7 linked regions of the Homo sapiens genome follow. The protein of the gene in region 4 interacts with the protein of the main gene of each other region in a pairwise test. Each region holds a gene or a part of one and is shown on either strand. Other genes may lie near its edges. The genes, in order: VPS9D1, DEUP1, CCDC13, CCHCR1, NINL, MAD1L1 and BICD2.

Evidence for each region.
Region 1: the proteins of CCHCR1 (region 4) and VPS9D1 interact in binary tests that used the Homo sapiens proteins (3 or more experiments, as listed by UniProt).
Region 2: the proteins of CCHCR1 (region 4) and DEUP1 interact in binary tests that used the Homo sapiens proteins (3 or more experiments, as listed by UniProt).
Region 3: the proteins of CCHCR1 (region 4) and CCDC13 interact in binary tests that used the Homo sapiens proteins (3 or more experiments, as listed by UniProt).
Region 5: the proteins of CCHCR1 (region 4) and NINL interact in binary tests that used the Homo sapiens proteins (3 or more experiments, as listed by UniProt).
Region 6: the proteins of CCHCR1 (region 4) and MAD1L1 interact in binary tests that used the Homo sapiens proteins (3 or more experiments, as listed by UniProt).
Region 7: the proteins of CCHCR1 (region 4) and BICD2 interact in binary tests that used the Homo sapiens proteins (3 or more experiments, as listed by UniProt).

Annotation. Positions count from the first base shown.
Region 1 is NC_000016.10:89,714,399-89,717,898, forward strand, and holds part of VPS9D1 (VPS9 domain-containing protein 1), read right to left. Parts: exon of another isoform or gene 2,946-3,500; intron 2,507-2,945; exon of another isoform or gene 2,425-2,506; coding exon 2,332-2,424; exon of another isoform or gene 2,227-2,331; coding exon 2,064-2,226; intron 1-2,063.
Region 2 is NC_000011.10:93,435,242-93,438,741, reverse strand, and holds the end of DEUP1 (deuterosome assembly protein 1), read right to left. Parts: intron 1,200-3,500; coding exon 1,023-1,199; 3' UTR 272-1,022; downstream 1-271. UniProt on the Homo sapiens protein: Key structural component of the deuterosome, a structure that promotes de novo centriole amplification in multiciliated cells.
Region 3 is NC_000003.12:42,738,754-42,742,253, forward strand, and holds part of CCDC13 (coiled-coil domain-containing protein 13), read right to left. Parts: intron 2,335-3,500; exon of another isoform or gene 2,222-2,334; intron 1,058-2,221; coding exon 881-1,057; intron 1-880. UniProt on the Homo sapiens protein: Required for primary cilia formation and promotes the localization of the ciliopathy protein BBS4 to both centriolar satellites and cilia.
Region 4 is NC_000006.12:31,151,303-31,154,802, forward strand, and holds part of CCHCR1 (coiled-coil alpha-helical rod protein 1), read right to left. Parts: intron 3,498-3,500; coding exon 3,194-3,497; intron 1-3,193. UniProt on the Homo sapiens protein: May be a regulator of keratinocyte proliferation or differentiation.
Region 5 is NC_000020.11:25,575,532-25,579,031, forward strand, and holds part of NINL (ninein-like protein), read right to left. Parts: intron 1-3,500. UniProt on the Homo sapiens protein: Involved in the microtubule organization in interphase cells. Overexpression induces the fragmentation of the Golgi, and causes lysosomes to disperse toward the cell periphery; it also interferes with mitotic spindle assembly.
Region 6 is NC_000007.14:2,226,446-2,229,945, forward strand, and holds part of MAD1L1 (mitotic spindle assembly checkpoint protein MAD1), read right to left. Parts: intron 1-3,500. UniProt on the Homo sapiens protein: Component of the spindle-assembly checkpoint that prevents the onset of anaphase until all chromosomes are properly aligned at the metaphase plate.
Region 7 is NC_000009.12:92,730,334-92,733,833, forward strand, and holds part of BICD2 (protein bicaudal D homolog 2), read right to left. Parts: intron 1-3,500. UniProt on the Homo sapiens protein: Acts as an adapter protein linking the dynein motor complex to various cargos and converts dynein from a non-processive to a highly processive motor in the presence of dynactin.

The sequences.
Region 1 (3,500 bases), on a different chromosome or scaffold from region 4:
CATGAAAGGAAGAAGTGTCCTGTCTCCTTTATACAGTTCCCAACAGCCACTCCACCTTGAAAGCTTTGTTCCCTCGTACCTTCCCACTGTCAGGGACAATGGAGGACAAGGAGGAAAGTCAGAGCCTGACGCCTGGCCACCCTGCCCTGAAGCCACATTGCAGAAACAAGGGGACTGGGAAGCCAGGCCCCGCCAGAGCAGGGGCAGGAGGAGTGGACCCTTCTCGTCTCTCCCACTTGGGAGTCACTGGGCTTTTTGCATTTGTGTCTTTGTATCTTTCATCAGTTCTAGACAACTGTCTGCCATTCTAACTTCTAATAATGCCTCTCTCCCATTTTCTTTCTTCTTTTTTTTTGAGCCGGAGTCTCGCTCTGTTGCTAGGCTGGAGTGCAGTGGCACGATCTTGGCTCACTGCAACCTCCACCTCCTGGGTTCAAGCGATTCTCCTGCCTCAGCCTCCCAAGTAGCTGGGGTTACAGGCACGCGCCACCATGCCCAGCTAAGTTTTGTATTTTTAGTAGAGATGGGGTTTCACCATGTTAGCCAGGCTGGTCTTGAACTCCTGACCTTGTGATCTGCCTGCCTTGGCCTCCCTCCCATTTTCTTTCTGGAACTCCAACGAACACGTTAGGCTTTCCATCTCTTGTTTTCTGTCTTTATTTTTTGTTTCTGTAATTCATTCTAGCTATCTTTTGACCTTTTTTCCAATACATGAATTTGCTCTTCAGCTATATCTGCTCTGCTGTTATAAACTTGTCTGCTCAGTTTTGTATGTATGGATTTCTACATATATATAGATATATAACTCATCCTTGTTCCCAGCTAAATTTTTTTTTTTTTTTTTTTGAGATGGAGTCTTGCTCTGTCGCCCAGGCTGGAATGCAGTGGCGCAATCTCAACTCACTGCAACCTCTGCCTCCTGGGTTCAAGGGATTCTCCTGCCTCAGCCTCCTGAGTAGCTGGGACTATAGGTGCCCGCCACCACGCCCAGCTAATTTTTTGTATTTTTAGTAGAGATGGGGTTTCACCTTGTTGGCCAGGATGGTCTCGATCTCCTGACCTCATGATCCACCCACCTCGGCCTCCCAAAGTGCTGGGATTACAGGCGTGAGCCACCGCGCCCGGTCATTTTTTTTTTTTTTAGACAGAGTCTCATTTTGTTGCCCAAGCTGGAGTGCACTGGCACAATCACGGCTCACTGCACCCTCAACCTGTCAGGCTCAAGTGAGCCTCCCACCTCAGCCTCCCTAGTAGTTGGGACTACAGGGGCACACCACTATGCCTAATTTTTTTTGAGACGGAGTTTCACTCTTGTTGCCCAGGCTGGAGTGCAGTGGCACAATCTTCGCTCACTGCAACCTCCACCTTCCAGGATCAAGCGATTCTCCTGGACTCAGCCTCCTGAGTAGCTGGGATTACAGGTGCACACCACCACGGCCAGCTAATTTTTGTATTTTTAGTAAAGACGGGGTTTTACCATGTTGGCCAGGCTGGTCAGGAACTCCTGACCTCAGGTGATCTGCTCGCCTCGGCCTCCTACAGTGCTGGGATTACAGGCGTGAGCCACCAGGCCGCCTGCATTTGCTTGTGTCCGGCCAGGGGATATTCCCATTCTGGGACTCATTTTAAAAACATTCGCTGTCAGGCCAGGCGCAGTGGCTCATGCCTGTAATCCCAGCACTGTGGGGGCCGGGCGCGGTGACTCACGCTGTAATCCCAGCACTGTGGGAGGCCGAGGCAGGCGCATCACGAGGTCAGGAGATCGAAACCATCCTGGCTAACATGGCAAAACCCCGTCTCTACTAAAAATACAAAAAATTAGCTGGGTGTGGTGGTGGGCGCCTGTAGTCTCAGCTACTTGGGAGGCTGAGGCAGAAGAATGGTGTGAACCCGGGAGGTGGAGGTTGCCGTGAGCCAAGATTGAGCCGCTGCACTCCAGCCTGGGTGACAGAGTGAGACTCTGTCTCAAAAAACAAAAAAAAAATCGCTGTCATCAGCTCATCTTTCTCAGCCTCAAAAACCCAATCCCAGGCTCATCCCACCTCCCATCTTGTCCATCTTACTTCTTACAGCTTTGTGACTCTGCCCCCTGAAGCTTCTGGAAGATCTCGGGTGGCAGAAAAGGAGAGAGCTTTCCTCCTTCATCGGAGTATACACGGCGGTGTCGGCCGGCAGGCTGGGGAATGGGAGCAGCTGCAGGCATGGTTGGCTTCAGGCGTGTTTTCCCTGCAAGCCATGGGTAACCAGGGGTCAAGCGGTGGGCCACATCCCACAGAGGAGATGCGGGCTTGGGGGATGCCCCAGGAGAGCCGCCTACTGCAGGAGACCCACCAAGCTTGGCGGCCGTCGACTGGGCCCTCTCCAGACACTGCTGTGCTAGCTTCAGCATCTTGGAGGTGTCGGGGGGCACAGTTTCCCCAGCTTCTGGGGGAGGGACAAGAAGGCTGGTCACAGTCGGCTCTACCACTGTTACTTACTGCTGAGATAAAATGAGGCAACGGAAAAGGCAGGCAAGCCCACTGCCCCCCTCAGCACCCCCACTGACCCCGGGCAAGCCCACTGCCCCCCCATCCCCTCACTGACCCTGGGCAAGCCCACTGCCCCCCCATCCCCTCACCCCGGGTAAGCCCACTGCCCCTCCCGTCCCCCAACTGACTGACCCTAGGCAAGCCCACTGCCCCCCCATCCCCTCACCCCGGGTAAGCCCACTGCCCCTTCCACCCCCCACTGACCCCGGGCAAGCCGACTATTCCTCATGGACCCCAGGCAAGGCCCCTGCCCCCACCATGGACCCCAGGCAAGTCCCCCCACCCACGCATTTCTAATCATCTGCCCTGGTTTTGCCTCCTGAGTCTGCTAAGGCTGTGGGCCCCTCATCGAGGCCCGTCACAGCCTCGACCCTAAACAGGCCTTTAGTGCTCACTCAGCTTCACTTGCAACTGCAGGCCTCTGGGAAGTGGCCGTTTTACAGAGACAAGGACGTGCTGAGGGGATCGCCTCACCCATCTCCCACCGGCTGTGTCCCCAAAGTCCTGCCTTCCCGTAGCTTGGCATGGAGCACCTCTGCGCGACCATGGACCTGCTCACACAGCCCTTCTGCGCGCCGTGGGAGCTGCCTCTCTGTGACTCGCCCCTGGACCCACCGCCCCAGCGCCTGACCCACCTCCCTGCTGCCCTTCACAGAAAACTTCTCATAGACTCCCATTTTCTCATCCCGCCCCGATTTAGCCCCCGACTCCCCCCGGAAACTGCCCTTACCCGTCCCCACCTTGCCAGACACGGTGGGCCACTGGAGTTCCTCTGTCTTCTGGGACTTTGCTCTCCCCAGGGGATCCTCTGCCACTCCTCCACCCAACTCCTCAATCTTGGAGCGCCAGAGCTCAGCCGAGCTCACCGGCTCCCTAGGGAGCTGGGGCAACTGTTAGCTCCCCCTGACCTGTGTGATCCTACGTCCAGTGGCTGCCCCGACCTCTGTGATCCCACGTCCAGGGGCTCCCCCG
Region 2 (3,500 bases), on a different chromosome or scaffold from region 4:
TTTATCTTTCAGTATGATGAGATTGTTTCTTTAAAGGGAAATAGAGAACTGTAAAAGCTGTAGTAGGACTTACCTTCTTTCATAATCTCTCTTCATATATACATATATATATATATATAGAGAGAGAGAGAGACATATATATACACACACACACATATGTGAAACTCTTAAAGTATATTGTATTATTGCTGTGTATTTGTAACTCTGTTTTATTGTTCACAGCCATGCTATTACTGTTCTATACAGATTTAGCATTTATGCTTCAAGTCCATTGAATTTTACATTCCTTTATTGTATTAAAAACAGAAGTGATTACAAAGGAAAATGTAGCAACAGTAATGCTTTATATTTCCTTTATCTTGTTTGTGTCCATGAAGTAATTAGTACTAACAAAAAAGCGTTAATTTTTGGCACATATATTTTAGGTTTGTAAATTGCACATTCCATATACCTTCATTGTGTTGAAACAGACAGACATTATAAAGGTGAATGTAAAAACAATAAAGCTATAGCTTTTTTTTTCCAAAAAATTATAGAATTTTAGAGTGTTTACATAACTGGAAATACTTAAATATTTTTATTTATAAAATCCTTGAGTTTTCAAAACCAGTACAACTGAGCTGCCTTTGAGTCATTTGTATCTGGAATATAGCACTTCCCTTTCTCTTATTTTGTGTAGTTGCTGAGGAAATGGGTTTTCAGTATACATGATTCAAGTGGGGAAAAAAAACTGCATATTTGATTCCAAAATATTCCTTAGACTGGAAAAAAATCTCTTTTGGAATAGTCATGTTTATTTTATAGTAACTCTACAGCAGGACAATTTAGCATGTTAATGCAGAAATGTGAACAGCTTTATAGAACAAAATACTTACTATTTTCTAGCTGCCTTACGGAAATTATTTACTCAAGGAAACAGAACAGAATTTCTTGGTTTCATTAATCAGCTTTGTAAATATTTTGCCAGAGCTTTTTTTCTTGGCGGGGGTGGGGGGGGGAAGCAAATAAAAAAGTTTAAAAGCTCATATGTGTCTATTTTGTTTTAGCTTGGAGTATTTATTAAGAGTAAATTCTGTGTGTCTTTGCAGTTCATCAATATGTGTATTTAGAAGTTTTTCAAGTTCTTTTGCTCGTTTCTCTTCTTCCAGAAGGAAATGCTGTGCAGCCAAAGATGCTGGGAAGGACATATCTGGGGGAGACTAAAGAGAGAAAGAAAGAAAAGTGAGTGAGGAATACAGAGCTTTAAAAAATCTTCCCATTTCCAGGCATGCTTCATCCCTGACATACTGTCAAACACCGCAGCTCTTAATGAAAGAATACATCCTGGGCTGAATTCCCACTACTAGTGTAATTCAGTTACCACTAATGAAATCCTCAAGGAACTAAGTAAGACATCACAGCACCATTACATTAAAAAGCTCTACAAATGAGTGTTATATTGTCCAACTGCAAATGCAGGGACAATGCACTCACCATGGAACCTGCCTAAAACATGCTGCAATCATTTGCAAAGCCAATGATTTTCATTTGAAAATAGGCAACTCCAAAAAGCTAAAGTAAAGATTATAGTGGAATTGCACTAGACAGTTTATAGAGAAGAAAATAAGGATTGGCTTTGACAGGGAGAATCAATGCTTGGAGTTAGCCAGGTGAGAGGGCTGGCTGCATGATGTGTCTTGGGGTGGAGGTGGCTCCCTAGTAGGGAAGGCTTGATGCTGGCATGTATCTTGTTTGTCTTATCACAGAGAAGAAAGTATCAGGGACAAGTGCCCCAATTCCACCCTTCATGGTGACATGAAAATGCTATTTAATTGTTTGTGACCTGTTTAGTGCTTATTTAAAAAAAAATAAAAATCTGTGGCTAAAGAATAAAGGACAACATCAGATAATTTTACAATTCTTCGTTTTGAAAAGCCACATACAAAAATTAAGTAATTTTTTTTTGTTGGGGAAATCTGTACTTTAATTTTCCAGTTCTGTGGTTGCTATATTCTTCTTTGATTTTCATTTTGGTAGGAAGAATGGGACTTTATGTAGTGTTTGGGGAGTCGACAATCTGTATACATGTGAACCTTGTTAGGTGGATTTTGTTCACCAATCTGGCCCCTGCCAAAACTAGGGATCATGCAAATGATGGAGTACTGCACACTTTTCCAACCAGTAGGCCCAACTGTAGCTGCTGTGTCAGGGATAGTATCTCTACTAGAGAAGACTATCACAGCCTGGGGTAGATGGTATGCTACTATTGATCTGGCAAATGCATTATTTTTAATATTGGCAAATGCATTCTTTTTAATATCTAATAAAAAGGAGGATAGGAAGCAGTTAGCATTCACATGTGGTGGCCAACAATATATATCCATGGTTTTGCCCCAAAGTTATGTTAATGAAGCTGTCACAATAAATTCTGAAGGGGCCTAGCCCATCTGGACATTCCAAAGACTATCACATGGAACATCATATATTAACACTAACATCATGTTAATGAGACTTGATGAGCAAGAAGTGGCAAGTATGTTAAAGGGATGGAAAGATGTATGTACTCCAGAAGGTGAAAGATAAACCCCATAAAAGATTGGGGCTTGACACATTGTTTTTAGGTGTCTACTGCTATGTGGCATGTCAGAACATCCTAGGTAAAGCAAAAATTAATGCACCTTGAAAATGTTCCACCCTTGGATCAAATAATTGAATAATCTGATTCATTTATTGGGTGACACAGAAAAAATTTTTTTTTTTTTTTTTTGAGACGGAGTCTCACTCTGTCGCCCACACTGGAGTGCAGTGGCGTGATCTCGGCTCACTGCAAGCTCCACCTCCCGGGTTCACGCCATTCTCCTGCCTCAGCCTCCCGAGTAGCTGGGACTACAGGCGCCCGCCACCACTCCCGGCTAATTTTTTGTATTTTTAGTAGAGACGGGGTTTCACCATGTTAGCCAGGATGGTCTCGATCTCCTGACCTCGTGATCTGCCCTCCTCGGCCTCCCAAAGTGCTGGGATTACAGGCGTGAGCCACCATGCCTGGTGAAAAAATTATTTTGTGAGAAAGCCCAGAACTCTGGAAAGAAAGAGCTGTGTAGGAGGTTCAGGATAGGGTACAAGTAGTCCTGCTACTTTGGTCAAATAACTTGGTAGATCCCATACTAGAAGAATCTCTGGTAAAGAAAAATGCCTTGTGGAGCCTCTGGCAAGTTTCATCGGGAAAGCTGTGTTGCAGACCCTTAAGATTCTGGAACAAGGCTATGCTATCTGTAGCAGAAACCTATATACTATTTGCAAGACAATTCTTGTCATGCTGTTGAGTCCTGGTTGAGACTCCAGCAAGTGGACAGGATGATTTGATCCAGCCTTTGTCTTTGGCTACCTCAGTGGGAATTATGCATCATCCCAATACCATGATTTCCCCTTTCACCAAGGGTAATCCAGCTGCTATTGCTGTTGAATGTCTGACCTGCTTGCAACAGAAACCAAAGCTGAGCTCTTGATATGGCATCATCCCT
Region 3 (3,500 bases), on a different chromosome or scaffold from region 4:
TTGATTTTGTATCCTGAGACTCCTGAAGTTGCTTATCAGCTTAAGGAGATTTTGGGCTGAGATGATGGGGTTTTCTAAATATACAATCATGTCATCTGCAAACAGGAACAATTTGACTTCCTCATTTCCTATTTGAATACCCTTTATTTCTTTCTCTTGCCTGATCGCCCTGGCCAGAACTTCCAACACTATGTTGAATAGGAGTGGTGAGAGAGGGCATCCTTGTCCTGTGCTGGTTTTCAAAGGGAATGCTTCCAGTTTTTGCCCATTCAGTATGATATTGGCTGTGGGTTTGTCATAAATAGCTCTTATTATTTTGAGATACGTTTAATCCAGGAAGTTTTTATAGTCAGATAAACCTGCTTTGAACTCAGTTGTATGGTCTTAGATGAGTTATCTAATGAATTTGAGTCTTAGTTTCCCCATCTGTGAAGTGGGATTAAAATATATGATCCTAGAAGTTATCTTAGGGACTAAGCATTATAACATGCCCAGAAGAGGAAGGGTTCTGTGCCACTGCAGAGATAAGAACTGGTACTGGCTCCTCTTGTCCCTTTCATTCCTTGCTGAAAAATAACCCAGGGTATAATCCCACCTCCTTCCCCCAATACATTTCTGTCTCTTTTGGGGTCCATAGGCCCAGTGCCTTGTGCCTGGTGCTGCTCCATCACAGCCCCCTACCTGCCCTCAGGCAGCCTCCCTGAGCTGCTCCTGTCCCTGGGGCAGGGCTTTGGTACTGGGGGCCATCTGGAGGCAACGGGCTTTGGGGTTACACAGGTGGCATTGAGGGGTGAGTGAGGGCTCACTCTGGCCATGGCTGGGGCCCATCCTTTGAGGAACCACCCCTGGCTCTCGCCCTGCCTGAGTGGTGGGGCCATACCATGAGGGCGTCGATGAGCTCGTCATCATGCCGGCCCTTCTCCACCAGGGTTCCCATCTGACTCTTGAGGGTCTTCATCTCACTTGACAGCAGCTTGTTCCGAGACCTCATGCCCTCGAACTTCTTTTTTAGCTCTTCAAGCTCTCTCTGGAGGACATCCCGTTCACTGGCAAGTTTCTGTAATTAGAAAGTGAGGGCATGGGCAGCAGGGCTGTGTGGGACCTTGGCCACATCTGCTCCCTGGCTCCTACTCAATGGCAAGGCCCGGGGCTGGGGGTGGGGGTGCTTGTTGAATGCCACAGAGCAAGTCACTAGAGCCAGGGCCCTGACTCCCAGCCCAGGCCTCTCAGGGATATCAGGTGGCCAGCAGCCTCCCACCCTTCCCCTAGCACATGACAGCACTAACCCATGACAGCACTCCTAACCTCAGCCTGAGACACAGACTTCCTAGCACATGAGAGGAAAGCCGCCAGCCAACTGCGTGTGTCCTCCAGAGAGCACAGCCAGTCCTACCCCTAAGCCCCTCCCCAAGCAGGGGAAAAGAGAAAAGCCATACTTTAGAAAAAGAGTGCTGGGCTAGGTTCCAACTGCAGCACCTTGCACCACCAGGAGCTAGAATGAGAAAGGAGGGTCTTTTCTCCCACTTCCTCCATGATTATTTGGCACAACCCCTGACAGCACCTTGCTTTGTCAGCTACCAACTGGAAACTCACATGCAGCACACATCTTCGGAGTCTCTCATTCAATCATCCCTTCATTCTCGAGGGTTTCCTGAGGGCCTACTATGGGTTTCCTGAGGTTTCCTACTATGGTTTCCTGAGGGCCTACTATGGGCTTAGTATTGTTATAGATGCTGGGGGACAGCAAAAAGCAAAACAGTCCTTGTCCTCAAGGAGCTGATAATCCTAATGGAGGAGACAGATAATGTCAAATAGTGACAAATGCTAATTTGAAAGTAGGAAACAGGAATAGCGAGAAGGATATGGTCAGGTAAGGCCTTTCTGAAAAGGTGGCATCTGAGCAGAGACTGAAGGAGATGAAGGGAAGAGCAAAGGCCCTGGGGTAGAAGGTGTGTGGCTGGAGCACAGTGAGTGAAGGGGCAGAGGTTAGATTAGGCAAACCCATAAAGACAAGATGGAGACATTGGGGAGGAGCTTGGGCAGTGGGTGACATCACCTGCTTGATCCTGAGGGTGAATTGTTGCTGGAAAAGTATTTTCATATCCTTGATGAAGTGAATTATAGAAATGCAAAACAAGTAAAACATGAATCTATAGGACACAAGCCCTTTGCAGGGAGGCAGCCATTACTCACCTGTTGCTCTCCTGCCTACACACTCCAGGCTCTTATGGGTGCCTGCCAGAGGGAATGCATGCAGGAAGCTGTTTCCTTCCACCCGCTATTGCAGCTTATGGTCAGCCCAACTGTTCAACATAATCTGTTCTGCACTAACATGTAAGTTCAAGCTAGGTGCATTTCAAACCCAGCATTTCCAAATCTCAACTCCCTTTCTCTTCTTGAACCCACCCTGTCTCCCTTACCCACCCACTATACTCCCTAGAAGTCCTTTATAACTCTTCCTCCTCATCTCTCTTCCAAGTCCAATCAGTCCTTGAGCCCTAGAAAGTCTGTCCTCACTGTCCCAGGTGTCTGGCCCTTCCATGACAGTCCACTATCTTGGCAAAGATCTTTGGTCATGTCTCCAGGATTACTATTCTGCCTTCCATTCCTCTTCCAACCCATTCCTCCTCTTGCTCCAACCATGTGACCTTTCCAAAATGCACAGCTGACCACCTCCCTCCACAAATTAAAACCCTGTCGTGGGCTCGGCGAATGGCTCACACCTGTAATCCCAGCACTTTGTGAGGCCGAGGCAGGTGGATCACCTGACGTTAGGAATTTGAGACCAGCCTGACCAACACAGTGAAACCCTGTCTCTACTAAATATATAAAAATTAGCCGGGCATGGTGGCAGGTGCCTGTAATCCCAGCTACTTGGGAGGCTGAGGCAGGAGAATCACTTGAACCCCGGAGGCGGAGGTTGCAGTAAGCCAAGATCACACCATTGCACTCCAGCCTGGGCAACAGAGCGAGACTCTATCTAAAAAAAAACAAAAACCGTTTGGTGGTTCTCCACAGCCTTCAAGATACAGGCCAAAAGTCCTGGCTGGCATACAAAGCCCAGCAGGCCCTGTCCACTTCTGTGGTCTCACTGTTTCCCTCCTCACAGCTGATGGTCTACAGCGCTGGGAGGTGCAATGTGGTCATGGTTACAGCATTCCTAACACAGGGCCTAACCCAGCGTTGGTGCTCACAGGCAAAAGTCTCCAGATGAAAAGGCAAGTCCTCACTGTTAGGTAGCTCACTGCCAGGGCCACTACGTGGGCCTGTTGTATGGCCTGCCTGCACCTCTTCATGCTGCTTCTGTTACCTTCTTTAAAGTGGCCCCTACTCCCTACTCTCATTGCAAGTTTGGGGAGGCTAACTCATCCCCTCAAACCTTGGGGCAGGTGTCTGAAGCTTGACCAATCAAAACACCCTGTACTCTTGGCTACAGTGATGGGCTCAAGGATGGTCACATAACCCAGGCTAGACCAAAGACACTCAATTCTGGGACTTTG
Region 4 (3,500 bases):
TGTCCGATCTCCCCCAAAACATATCTTCACCTCTCTGTCTCCGTCTCCACTGCCACCAACCCTCATCTTTTGCCTGGGCAACAGCGACCATCTCCTAACTAGTCTTTACAAACCCTCAGTGGCTTCTCACAGCATTCACAACAAAACCCAGGTGTCTCTCCACACCTGCAGGCCAGGGGACCCGGCCTCTGCCTACCTCCTGAGCTCACCCTGGAGGCTCTCCCACTGCTCCCCGCTCCGGCCACGGGGAGTCTGCTGAGAACCAGACAGCGGCCCCTCCTTGCTCCACAGACCCCAGGCGATAGCCCCTCCTCAGGGTGGCTTCACTGGGCCCTCTAATACCGTCCCTCCCCACCCTACTCTGCCCCATCAGCTGTTCACGTCCTCCTGAGCACTTAGCACTGACCATATCTTGCTTATGTGTATGTGTTACTATCTGTCGGACCACACTGGAAGGAAAGCTCCAGGAAAGGAGGAATTTTGTGTCTTTTGCTCATGGCACCTCAAAGGGTTGCAGGGGTGTCAGAGCCACCAAGAGTCATGGGATGGACTGGAAAGGAGGGCAAAGTGCCCACCCTGCTTCCTGGTCTGCCTCCTCTAGCCCTGTCTCCATACAACAATAAAATTAATTTGGGGGACATAAATGACAAAATTTTTTAGACATAAAATACAAATCTAATCATGTTATTTCCCTGCTTAAAACCTTTCAACAGGCCGGGCGCAGTGGCTCATTCCTGTAATTCCAGCACTTTGGGAGGCCGAGGTGGGTGGATCACAAGGTCAGGAGATCGAGATCATCCTGGCTAACATGGTGAAACCCCGTCTCTATTAAAATACAAAAAATTAGCTGGGCGTGGTGGCGGGCGCCTGTAGTCCCAGCTACTCGGAAGAATGACTTGAACCCGGGAGGCGGAGCTGGCAGTGAGCCAAGATCGCGCCACTGCACTCCAGCCTGGGCGACAGAGCGAGACTCCATCTCAAAAAAAAAAAAAAAACAACCTTTCAACGGTTGCTTATTACTTGAAAAAACAATTTTTTTTTGTTTGTTTTTTTGGAGATGGAGTTTCACTTTGTTGCCTAGACTGGAGTGCAATGGCACGATCTCAGCTCACTGCAAACGCTGCCTCCCAGGTTCAAGCGATTCTCCTGCCTCACCCTCCTGAGTAGCTGAGATTACAGGCATGAGCCACCACGCCCAGCTAATTTTTGTATTTTTAGTAGAGATGAGGTTTTACCATGTTGGCCAGGCTGGTCTCGAACTCCTGACCTCAAGTGATCCACCCGCCTCAGCTTCCCAAAGTGCTAGGATTACACATGTGAGCAACCATGCCCAGCCCTAATTTCTTCCATAAAATAGAGATGGGGGTCTCGCTTTGTTGCCCAGGCTGGTCTCAAACTCCTGGGCTCAAATGATCCTTCCACCTTGGCCTCCCAAAGTGCTAGGATTACAGGTATGAGCCACTGTGCCCAGCCTGCTCATTGCTCTTATGGGAAAGTAGCAAGTTCTGAAGTGGCCAAAGCCTTGTGCCCTGGGCCCTGGGCTCTGCAGCACACTCAGTGCCCCTCATCTCTGTGCCCCAGCCTTCTGGCCTCCTGTCCCCGCCTTCACCTGTTGTCCCACCAAGTGTCTTCCAGCTACCACTGGACTTCACACGCCTCTTCACTGGCCAACTCCTATTCAGCACAAACGGTAGCTTGTTGTTTTTTTAGTCTCGCTCTGCTGCCCAGGCTGGAGTGTGATGTCAGCTCACTGTAACCTCTGTCTCCCAGGTTCAAGCAATTCTCCTGCCTCAGCCTCCCAAGAAGCTGGGGGATTACAGGCGCCCACGACTATACCCGGCTAATTTTTGTATTTTTTTGTAGAGTTCTTCATGTTGGCCAGGTTGGTCTTTAACTCCTGGCCTCAAGTGATCCGCCCACCTCGGCCTCCCAAAGTGCTGGGATTACAGGCATGAGCCACTGTGCCTGGCCTAGCTTCTTGTTTCTAAGTTTCTTTCATAAATCTCCTTTGTCCATTTTCTGATTGGATTGCTGGTCTTTCCCTTACCAATTTCTAGGCACACATTTTATATTAGGGATATTACCCTTTTCTTGTGATCTGAGCTATAAATATAGCTTTTTTTTTTCTTTTTGGCTATTCCTAATGTTCATGTTATAAAGTCAATGGATCAATTTTTTCCTTTATGGCTTCTAGATTTTGGATTTTGACTCACAGGTAGAAAGGCCTTGCCCACTACAAGGTTATAAAGGAATTCTCCCTTGTTTTCTCCCAGTTCCTTTTTTATTTTATTTTTTGAGACAGAGTCTTGCTCTGTCGCCCAGGCTGGAGTGCAATGGCACAGTCTCGGCTCACTGCAACCTCCACTGCCCAGGTTCAAGTGATTCTCCTGCCTCGGCCTCCCAAGTAGCTGGGATTACAGGTGCGCACCACCACGCCTGGTGAATTTTTGTATTTTTAGTAGAGACAGGGTTTCGCCATGTTGGCCAGGCTGGTCTTGAACTCCTGACCTTGTGATCTGCCTGCTTCGGCCTCCCAAAATGCTGGGATTACAGGCGTGAGCCACTGCGCCCAGGGCTATGGTTTCTTTCCTTGACATGTCAACTGGTTACAGTGGCCTTCCCTGAACCCCAGACTAAGTTAGTGCTTTCTAGTCCTTCTCCTTCAAGGCATTCCTCCTGATTGCAATTAATTATGATTAAATTAAATGTGGATGTGTATATCCCCCACGAGGCTGTCAGTTCCATCCACGAAGGCAGGACTCAGGCTAATTTGGTCACTGAGTCTTAGAGATGGCAAAGAGTAAGTACTGAGTTTGAGGACTGAATAATCTCTCTCTCCCAGTCCACCATAGCCCCCTTATACCCACCTTCCTCACTGCCCTCCACAATACCCCTGATGAATTGGTACCTGGAGTAAAGTAGGGAGGCAAACTATTTCCTACTAGAAAGGGAAGCAGGGCTTCAAGTGGTGGGAGGCCACCTGAGTCTTGGGGGAAAAGTGCAACCTGAATTAAGATAAAAGTACCCAAATTCTCCATCTTTCTAGGCCATGTGTGTTTATTTTCACCAAAGGTCTCATCACTCTACTACTCACTACTCATGGAGGGTCTTTTCTGCAATACCTGTTCTTTGCTTGGAAGCTACTGCCCAGCTCTCCGTTATGAATTTGAATCCTTTCTACCCCTGCATTCACCTGCTCTTGGTGCAGCCTCTGAACCTCTTCCAGCTCCCGCTGGCTCCCCTCTTCCAAGTTCTTCCGGACAACCTCAGCCCCAGCCAAAGCAGCACGCAGGCCCTCAGCCTCAGCTCGGCCGGCCTTCTCCGCCCGTGCCAGAGCCTCTAGCTCCATGGCCTGGGCCTCTAGCCTCATCTTCTGCTGCAGCGAGGTCTCCCGCAGGAGCCGGACCTCCTCCTCCAGCCGCCGCAGCTCTTGCAGCTGCCGAACGATCACCTCAGCCTGCTGGCTCAGGGCCTGTGACCCCTCCAGCCCCCAGGACCTT
Region 5 (3,500 bases), on a different chromosome or scaffold from region 4:
CATGAGGTCAGGAATTCGAGACCAGCTCGGCCAACATGGTGAAACCCCGTCTCTACTAAAAAGTAAAAAATTAGCTGGGCATGGTGGCGTGGGCCTGTAATCCCAGTTACTCAGGAGGCTGAGGCAGGAGAATTGTTGGAACCCAGGAGGCAAAGGTTGCAGTGAGCCGAGATCGCGCCATCCAGCCTGGGCGACAGAGCAAGTACTCAGTCTCAAAAAAAACACAAAACAACAAAAAAAAAAACTTGTAAGAATAGTACAAAAAATTCTCCAATACTCCCTCACTCGGCTGGCTTCACCACCTGTTTCCACTTTTCCCCTTTACCACAACCATTTTGTCATTTTCTCTCCCTCACTTCCTCCCTCCCTCCATATCATCTATCTACCCCTGCTCCTCTCCTTCTCCATTTGAAATCGGGTATCAGACTTTGTGCCCCTGTATCCCTAAATAGTTCAAAATGTATTCACTAAGCTCAAGGAGACAGTCACAGTACAACAAACTAGGGAAATTTGACATTTATACAATCCACCATTCAGATCAAATTCTGTCCATGGTGCCAACAATGTCCTTTACAGCTATCTTTTTCACCCCAGTCCAGTTTCCAATTCAGAGACAAGCACTGTACACGGTTTTCCTGTCCCTTTAAACCAGACCATTTTCTCAGTCTCTGTTTCTGAACTTTGAAGTCTTTGGAGTAGACACAGGCAGGGCGTTATGTAGAATGTCCCAGAGTCTGTCTGGTGTCTGCACAATTAGATTCAAGGGTGGCAGGAACACCTGGGTCAGGTGTGTCCTTGGCACATCTCATGGGGGGCACAGATGTCTCATAACTGGTGACAGTAACTGCAATCGCTTGGTTAGCATGGTGACTGCAGCAGGGTAGTCACCTTTATGTGAGTTTGAATTATGAGAAGTTTATTCATTTTTATTTTATTTTACTTTTTTGAGACAAGATCTTGCTCTGTTACCCAGGCTGGAGTGCGGTGGTGCATCCCCACTCACTGTAGCCTCCACTTCCCGTGCTCAAGTGATCCTCCTACCTCAGCTTCTCAAGTAGCTTGAACCACAGGCACATGCCACTGTGCCTAGCTAATTTTTCATTTTTTTTTGGTAGAGATGGGGTTTCAGTACATTGCCCAGGTTGGTCTCGAACTCCTGAACTCAAGAGATCCTCTCACCTCAGCCTCCCAAAGTTCTGGGATTACATGCATGTGCCACCGTGCCAGCCTGAGAATTTTAAGTGGTGAAAGTCTACAATGATAAGAGTCTTACTTTATGTGCACAGTTGGAAATAATAAAAATTCAGTAAGAATTTAAAATGTATCAAGAATTGCTTCGCTTTAAAGCTGTGCAACAGTGTACACTATCAAGTACAGTTTAAAACTTTTGCCACAGAGCAAGGCCTGGCTGGTCTTGAACTATGCAGGCTGTGGACTGTGTCCACTTCAGACCTGCCCCTGCAAACATCCTGCTTGACACAGTTTCCTGAGGAACCGTACCAGAAATCAGTACAGGCCATTAATGTAGATTGTGGGGTTCCGAAATTGGGCATCCACGTTTCTGTCCCTACCCAGAGTTGGGGAAAATCTCAGCCTGTCACTTACCTTCATTTGGGGCCTTGGAGAGCAGTGACAACGTTGCCTGAAGCAGGGAGCTAACTGGCCGGGCTGCAGCCCGCCCTCTGGAGTCCCTGCTGGTCATCCCAGGACCGTGGGTACTCAGTTTTACTCACTGGTCCACATGGAGACACGCGTCCCCAAGTCTGTTCAAGGCCCTGCCGCCTCTCCTGTGTTGGAGACCTGGCACGCTACCCACTTCTGCCTGCCTGGTTTTGTCCTCCTCCCGAGCATGGCTGGAAGTCCCAAGGCCACGTGGCCGGACAGTCCAGCACATCCCTCCTCAGGTCACTTGAGTACAGGACAGGCAGAGGCCTTCCAGATACAAGGAGCTCTCCCTGGGGTTGGGACAACCTACTCAAAATCTGCACCGAGCAGACTCTCCCTGTTGATTTTTAAATAATTAATAGCTGTTTACTACATTCCTATGCCCTTGAAACGAAAACTCCAAGTTAGTGAATATTGCACTATATTGACTGATGCTGGTTCTCATGTTTAGGGTCTGACACCACCCATGACTCTAAGGGGAACCTGGAGGTCCTCTTTGTGAATAGAGCTCCTGTGAGGTCCATCCTGGCGGGGGAGCCCACCACCCCTCTTTGTGTGGGGCCAGCAGAAGCTCGGGGCTTACTACTGTCCTAGTCCCAGGAACAGACTCATTTTTCTGAAATATTTTCTTTTCTTTTCTTTTTTTTTTTTTTGAGATGGAGTTTCACTCTCGTTGCCCAGGCTGGAATGCAATGGCGCGATCTCGGCTCACTGCAATCTCCACCTCGCAGGTTCAAGAGATTCTCCTGCCTCAGCCTATGGAGTAGCTGGGATTACAGGCATGTACCACCACACCTGGCTAATTTTGTATTTTTAGTAGAGATGGGGTTTTTCCACGTTGGTCAGGCTGGTCTTGAACTCTCAACCTCAGGTGATCTGCCTGCCTCGGCCTCCCAAAGTGCTGGGATTACAGGCGTGATTTTTTTTTTTTTTAGACGGAATCTCACTCTGGCGCCCATGGAGTGCAGTAGCGCAATCTTGGCTCACTGCAACCTCCGCCTCCCAGGATCAAGCGATTCTTCCATGTCAGCCTCTGGCGTAGCTGGGATTACAGGTGTGCCCCACCACACCTGGCTAATTTTTCTATTTTTGGTAGAGACGGGGATTCACCATGTTGGTCAGGCTGGTCTCAAATTCCTGACCTCAAGTGATCTGCCCGCCTCAATCTCCCAAAGTGCTGCGATTACAGGTATAAGCCACCTCGCCCGGCCCTGAAATGTTATTTCCATGGGCGCACACACGCACACAAAGCCACAAAAAGCAAAGCACAATTCATTAAGTCCTTAATACTCTTGCTTAAAAATGGAATTTGATTAGCTGGGCGCAGTGGTTCATACCTGTAATCCCAGCACTTTGGGAGGCTGAGGCAGGTGGATCATGAGGTCAGGAGACCGAGACCATCCTGGCTAACACGGTGAAACCCCGTCTCTACTAAAAATAGAAAAAATTAGCCGGGCATGGTGGCGGGCGCATGTAGTCCCAGCTACTCAGGAGGCTGAGGCAGGAGAATGGCGTGAACCTGGGAGGTGGAGCTTGCAGTGAGCGGAGATCGCCCACTACCACTCTAGCCTGGGTGACAGAGCGAGACTCCATCTCCAAAAAAAAAAAAAAAAAAAGGAATTTGATCAAGCAGTAAAGCTCAAGCAAAATTAAATTAAATTAAATTAAATGGAGTCATGCACATGCCTGTAGTCCCAGCTACTTGGGAGGCTGAGGTGGGAGAATGCTTGAACCCAGGAGTTCAAGTCAAGCCAGGCAACACAGTGAAACCCTGTCTCTAAAACATAAATAAATAAAATAAAAATGGGACTTTGAGCTAACAGTCCTCATACTGC
Region 6 (3,500 bases), on a different chromosome or scaffold from region 4:
GAGCTCCTGGGGGCCCTCTCAGAAGTCTGCCTACCACACAGGGCTAGTGATTACAGGTTAGCTGAGCCTCAAAGAGCCCCAGAAGACTTGCCAAATAGTTCCAGAGCCGGCCTTTGGGTACGACCTGCTCAGCTGGAGGAAAAGGCAGAGTCACTGACTCTTCACGTGGCCCAGAGCCTTGCAGTGCAGCATCTCCCGGCACTTAACAAATGCAGAGTCGCAGACTACACCCCAGACCTACTCAGTCAGAATCTTCTCTTTAGGTTGGGTGTGGTGGCTCACACCTGTAATCCCAGTACTTTGAGAGGCCAAGGCGGGTGGATCACTTGAGGCCAGGAGTTCAAGACCAGCCTGGCCAACATGGGGAAACCCCGTCTCTACTAAAAATACAAAAATTAGCTGGTCGTGGTGGTACGCACCTGTAACCCCAGCTACTCAGGCTGAGGCAGGAGAATCGCTTGAACCCAGGAGGCGAAGGTTGCAGTGAGCCAAGATCACACCACTGCATTCCAGCCTGGATGACAGGGCAAGAGTTCGTCTCAAAAAAAAAAAAACAAAAGAATCTAGGCCAGGCGTGGTGGCTCACGTCTGTAATCCCAGCAGTTCGGGGGGCCAAGGTGGGTACATAACTTGAGGTCAGGAGTTTGAGACCAGCCTGGCCAACATGGTGAAACCCTGTCTCTACTCAAAACTATGAAAATTAGCCGAGTGTGGTGGTAACGCACCTGTAATCTCAGCTACTCGGGAGGCTGAGGAGGGAGAATCACTTGAACCCAGGAGACGGAGGCTGCAGTGAGCCAACATTGTACCACTGCACTCCAGCCTGGATGACAGAGTAAGACCCTATCTCCAAAAGAAAAAAAGAAACTTCTTTTTAGACACATTCTCAGGGCGTTCACATGCACATGAAAGGTTGAGAAGCACCAGAGTAGAGTGGTGGTTCCCAGTGGGGTCCAGTTTTGCCCCTGGGAACATCTGGCCCTGTCTGGAGACACCTGATTGTCACAGGGGGGTGGTCACATGTGTCTGCTGCTGGCTGGCGTCCAGGGGGTAGAGGCCAGGGAAGTTGTTAAACAGCCCACAATGCACAAGAAAGTCCTGAGAAAAAAGAATTACCCAGCCCAAATGCCAAGCGTGCCAAGGCCAGGAAAGCCTGGGACAGGGGAGGGAAGTTTCTCTGTCCTCCCACCTGTGTTCTCTGGTGGCCCAAGCCCACACTTCCTTTACTCCTATGTTACTGTGTCTCGATTCTCAGCTGCTGCTGTTTGGGCGTTCCTAAGACTGCCCTTCAAACTCAGCAGCCTTCCTGGTCTCACTTCTGTGTCTGCAGTCAAGCCTGAGCCTCTCGAGAAGGGTGGGCACCCCGCCTGCAGGGGGCACGACCGGCAGGGACCAGGAGTCCCAGACACACCTGATCCGTGTGCCACCTCTGCCTGGAGCTGACTACAACGGAAAGAAAGGAACCCTGAAAGTTTACCCTTACGTTAAATCAACACGATGTGTGAGAAACCAGACAGCACACATTCCCCCGGCCTGCCATGTTCTCCAGGCCCTCCCTGCCACGCCGGGGGCTCAGCAGGAGAGAGAGAACCACGACGAAGTCCAGGAATGGGATGTGACAGGGGCCAGGGACCAAGGCTGGTCTTGCCGCCATCACTCCGCTCACCACCTTGCTCTGACTACCGCACTCCATCACTGATCCCCTCACCGAGAGGCCTTTACCAGTGAGCACTGGGGGCCTCCGAGCCCCAAGACAGACTCTAGAATCCCACAGCTTTGACAGACAGGCCAAGAGGTCCCAGACATTCGCAACACTAAAATCACAGCATTTCAGACCAGAGTTGCCAACTCTGTCACCCGGGCTGGAGTGCAGTGGCGCGATGGCTCACTGCAACCTCCGCCTCCCAGGTTCAAGCGATTCTCCTGCCTCAGCCTCCCGAGTAGGTGGGATTACAGGTGCCCACACCCGCCTAATTTTTGTATTTTTAGTAGAGATGAGGTCTTACCATGTTGGTCAGGCTGGTCTCAAATTCCTGACCTCAAGTGATCCAGCCACCTCAGCCTCCCAAAGTGCTGGGGTTATAGGCATGAGCCACTGCAACCAGCTCAGAGTTGGCCACTTCTCATTTTGTCAGTGATAAAAAACAACTACCATCTATTACCTTCATAATTTCACAAAAGAACATTTACATAAATATTATATATATACACACACACATATATATATATATGACCTAATCTCAGAATAAAAAACAGTCCTCATCAAGAAAGGGCAGTGAGCAAGCTAGCAACTAGCATTCTTTTTTTTTTTTTGAGACAGGGTCTCACTCTGTCACCCAGGCTGGAGTGCGGTGGCGCAATCTCAGCTCACTGCAAGCTCTGACTCCCGGGTTCACACCATTCTCCTGCTCCAGCCTCCCGAGTAGCTGGGACTACAGGTGCCACGCCCAGCTAATTTTTTGTATTTTTAGTAGAGACAGGGTTTCACCGTGTTAGCCAGGATGATCTTGATCTCCTGACCTCATGATCCGCCCACCTCAGCCTCCCAAAGTGCTGGGATTACAGGCCTGAGCCACCACATCTGGCCACAAGCTAGCATTCTAATAAACACACATTAATTCAATTATGCAACAAAACAAATGCACACGCACACACAGTTTAACCAAATGCAGCAGGGCCTCATCTGGGCTCTGAGAGCGCAGGAAGCCAGAGCCTCCTCTAATGCGGACAGAACTACAGAACGGCTCTGGGGACCGCAGCAGGGACTGGGAAAGAGGGTCCAGGCAGAGGAGCCTAGAGGAGCCTGCGCAGCCACAGGGCCCAGGCAAGGCTGGAGACACTACTAGCCAGCACTCCACTCCCCACCACTCCCTACAACTTGGGGGCCCCATTATCGCAGCCCCAACTGGGACTGGGCTCATCACTCTTTGGAGCCTGAAGTCCTTCAGGAGGCCTGAATCCTCTGCAGTTGTGTCTACAGTGAGAAACCCCAAGAACTTGTAATGAAACAAAATACAACTATTTTATAGAAGAAAACTGTAAAAATCACCCCAAAATCTGTAAATGGCCCTCCACAGTCTGAGACCACAAAACACCCAGTCCTTCTGCTCACTGCTGTGGCTTTGTCTCTGGGCTGCCCAGGCACTCTCAGCACTGTGTTTCCAACACAGCCTTCCCGACAGTCCTGGTGCTCACTCCCCCAGGCAGTTTGGGTTCTGTCCTCAATTAGATGAATGAACTGGCTTTCCGATCCTGTCACCAGGGTCTGTGAGTGCACTTGTGTGAACGCAATGCTGAGCGCCAGGCCCACTCAGGGCGCTAACAAGGCAGGCCTTTAAGCCAGGATGGCTCAGGGCCCCAACTAGCCTCCAGCTACGACCCCAAAATGAGGAGTGCCCATAGTGAGACCTGGGAGACGAATAGCTGTCTCTAGGCTCTGCTAATACCGACCCACCTCAACTACAGAAGACTGGAAGAGGTCCTGCCCGGGCCCAGGGTCT
Region 7 (3,500 bases), on a different chromosome or scaffold from region 4:
ACTCATTTACTATTTAATATTAAATCTAAGAATTCAGTCCAAGAAAATAGGGAAAATGTAAAAAACCATGAATAAGGATGTTACTGAGCAGGACAGTTTCTAATTTCAAGAAATCAAAACAAAGAGTAACTCATTTCGTCCCAACAGGAGACTGGTAAAAGAAACCAGGGTCTAGTCTGAGTATAGACTCTCATGGGACCAACAGGGGACTCAAGGGGAAGACAGACTGATTGATCTTACAGCACTGTGAGGATCACAGGATCCTGCCTGGAAGAGCACACATGTGCTATGGCAGGTGTGGTGACATGTGCTGTGATGTATGTGTTGTGTGTGTGTGTCTCGTGGTGTTGCGGGGGACACCCCTAAACAAGGCTAACAGGACAACACAGCCCAGCAGGAAGACTGGTGCTGGCAATGGGACTGCACGGGGGGACTCGGGATTGACATGGACACTCCTGCTGCGGATGCACAGATGTCTATGGCACCCACACTCCTGAGGAGGCTGGGTCTTGCTCACCTGCCCCCACCCATCAACACAACACCCACTACGTGGAAGATGTCCGCTTTTCTTCAAGGCAATCGGGTCAGCTCTGTGATTTCTGCTCTGTTCTTCCTTATCCTAGTCCCAAGGAAGGTCCAAATCATAATGTCTACACAGCACCTCATCCACCCTGGCCAGCCACCCCGGGCCACAAGAAGGGAAACCGGACATGGAATTGGCCCCAGCTGCAGGCTCCCCACCCAAGTGGCAGCCAGGCCCCAAGTCCCTCATTGGGTGAAGGGCCCGCCGGCTGCAGGCGGCATGGGCAGCGCCAGACCATCTGGGCCTCCTGACAAGCAGGAGGGACCCAAATGAAGGGTCCAGCACACATGGCTGCTCAGAACACACCCACGAGCCTGGAGCTGGGGATGCAGACATCACCTCAGAAGCTTCCTCCAGGTATGACAGCTAAATGCCATGACACGACATTCAAGTCCTAGCCTCCTGGCCTGAGCCCTGGATCTTTTCCTCTGCTTAAGCTCCCAGCCTGGGGCCCAAAACACTCCTGGGCAGCTTTTCAAACACACTGAGATACAGACTTCCGCGTACAGCCAAGATGAGATTGTTGCAGAAATTAGAACTACCTTCTGTGTGAAAACTTAAAAAAAAAAAAGAAAAAGAAAAAAACCAGGCAATGATAGAATATAAATAAATAATAAGCAGTGGTTTTCACATCATGGGCACTAGATAGTGAGAGACAGGAGGAGGGGAGTTCCAGGAGCCCCCTCCACCAAAAGAACTTCCCAGCCATGGAAAAATGGGAGACTGAGGCAAGGCGTGGCAGACCCTGTCAAGGAGGGACTGGAAGATGGCGGAAGATGGCAGCAGGGCAGCCAAGCTAGGCAGACCTGCACACAGGGCCAGAATCTCCACTGAGGACCAGGGAGCACAGAGCTGAAGAAGTCACTGAAGGACCACTGAGGGGGCAGAGAAAGCAATCCCCACCATTTATACCAGCCAAAAACAGTACCTGCTCCCAACAGCAGAGGAGAGCCCTCCTGATGCACAGGCAGCTGGGGAGCACTCCCAGGGCCTGAAAAAATTAGTCTGGATTAAATCTGCTCTGATACCACAGAGCAAAGCATAAAGACAAAACCTGAAAGGATCAATCTGATTCCAAGTCACTTAACTACATCCCAGAACAAAGCTCAAGAACACATGAAGGAATACAAAAACATCCATCTCCCAACAGGTGAGGTCCACTGGCTGGCATCCCGTCACTTACCACTGAGCAGGCAAAGGCGCACAAATGAGGAAGACAGAAAAAGATCCAGATAGAACTTCTAGAGACGAAAAGTACAGTGGATGGGATTCACAGCAGATAAAACAATGCAGAAGAAAAGATCAGTCAACTTGAAAAACCACAGCAAACTATCCAAAATGAAACACAGAGAAAAAAAGGCTAAAAGACAAAAGCAAGACTCAAACAGAGCATTGGTGAAGTATGAAGTATGACACAATTTCAAGAAGCCTTATGTAAGGAGTAATTGGAGTACCCAAAGGAGAAAAAGGGGAAAATAGAAAAAGTAATTGAAGAAATAAATCATAGCTGAAAATTTTCCAAATTTGATGAAAATTATAAACCCACAGATATCAGCAGCTTGTCAACACCAAGCACAAGAAATATGAAGCAAACTACACCAAGGCATAATATAAAATTGTTTAAAACCAATTATATAATAAAAATATTTAAATCAGCCAGAAGAAAAAGGATACATGACTCAAGAGGAGCAAAGATAAATGACAGCTGATTTCTCTAACAAGCCAGGAGATAGTGGAACAACATCTTTTAAACAACAAAACAAAAAAACTTAACTAGAATGCTATACTCACTGAAAACTGTTCACAAATAGAGGTGAAATACTTTAGAGATACAAAAGCTGAAAGAATTTATCAACAGCAGATATGCATTGGTATTTAAAGATATGCTAAATAAAATCCTTCAGGCAGAAGAAAAATAATACCATATGGAAATCTTTATCTACATGGAAGAAATGATAATTAAATAGGCAAATATAAAGTACTTATTTTTCTTATTTAAATCTCTTTAAAAGATAATTAACTTGAAATTCAATGCAATCCCTACCAAAATTCCAAAGCCTTTTTAGCAGAAATGGAAAAGGTGATTTTCAAATTCATATGGAATTGCAAAGGGCCTAGAAGAGCTAAAACAATATTGAAAGGGAATAACAACGTGAGAGAACTCACAATTTCAAAACTTAATACAAAGCTACAGTGATCAAAACAATGTGGTACTAGTGTAAAGATAGATACAGAGACCAACGGGATAGAATAGAGTCCAGAAATAAAACCTCATATATATGGTCAATTGATTTTTGGCAAGGGTACAAAAATAATTTGATGTCAAAGAATAGTTTTTCGGCCAGGCACGGTGGCTCATGCTTGTAATCCCAGCACTTTGGAAGGTCGAGGCGGGCAGATCACGAGGTCAGGAGTTCGAGACCAGCCTGGCCAACATAGTGAAACCTCGTCTCTACTAAAAATAAAAAAAAATTAGCTGGGCGTGGTGGCGGGTGCCTGTAATCCCAGCTTCTTGGGAGGCTGAGGCAGGAGAATGGTTTGAACCCAGGAGGCAGAGGTTGCAGTGAACCGAGATCACGCCACTGTATTCCAACCTGGACGACAGAGGAAAAAAAAAAAAGTTTTTCAACAAATGATGCTGGGGCAAGTAGATACATATATGCAAAATAATGAAGCTGAACCCCTACCTCACATTATACACAAAAATTAACTCAAAATGAATCAAATACCTAAATATAAGAACTAAAACTATAAAACTTTCAGAAGATAGGCTGGGTGCGGTGGCTCATGCTTGTAATCCCAGCACTTCGGGAGGCCGAGGCGGGCAGATCACGAGGTCAGGAGATCGAGACCATCCTGGCTAACACAGTGAAACCCCGTCTCTACTAAAAATACAAAAAATTAGCCAGGCGTGGCG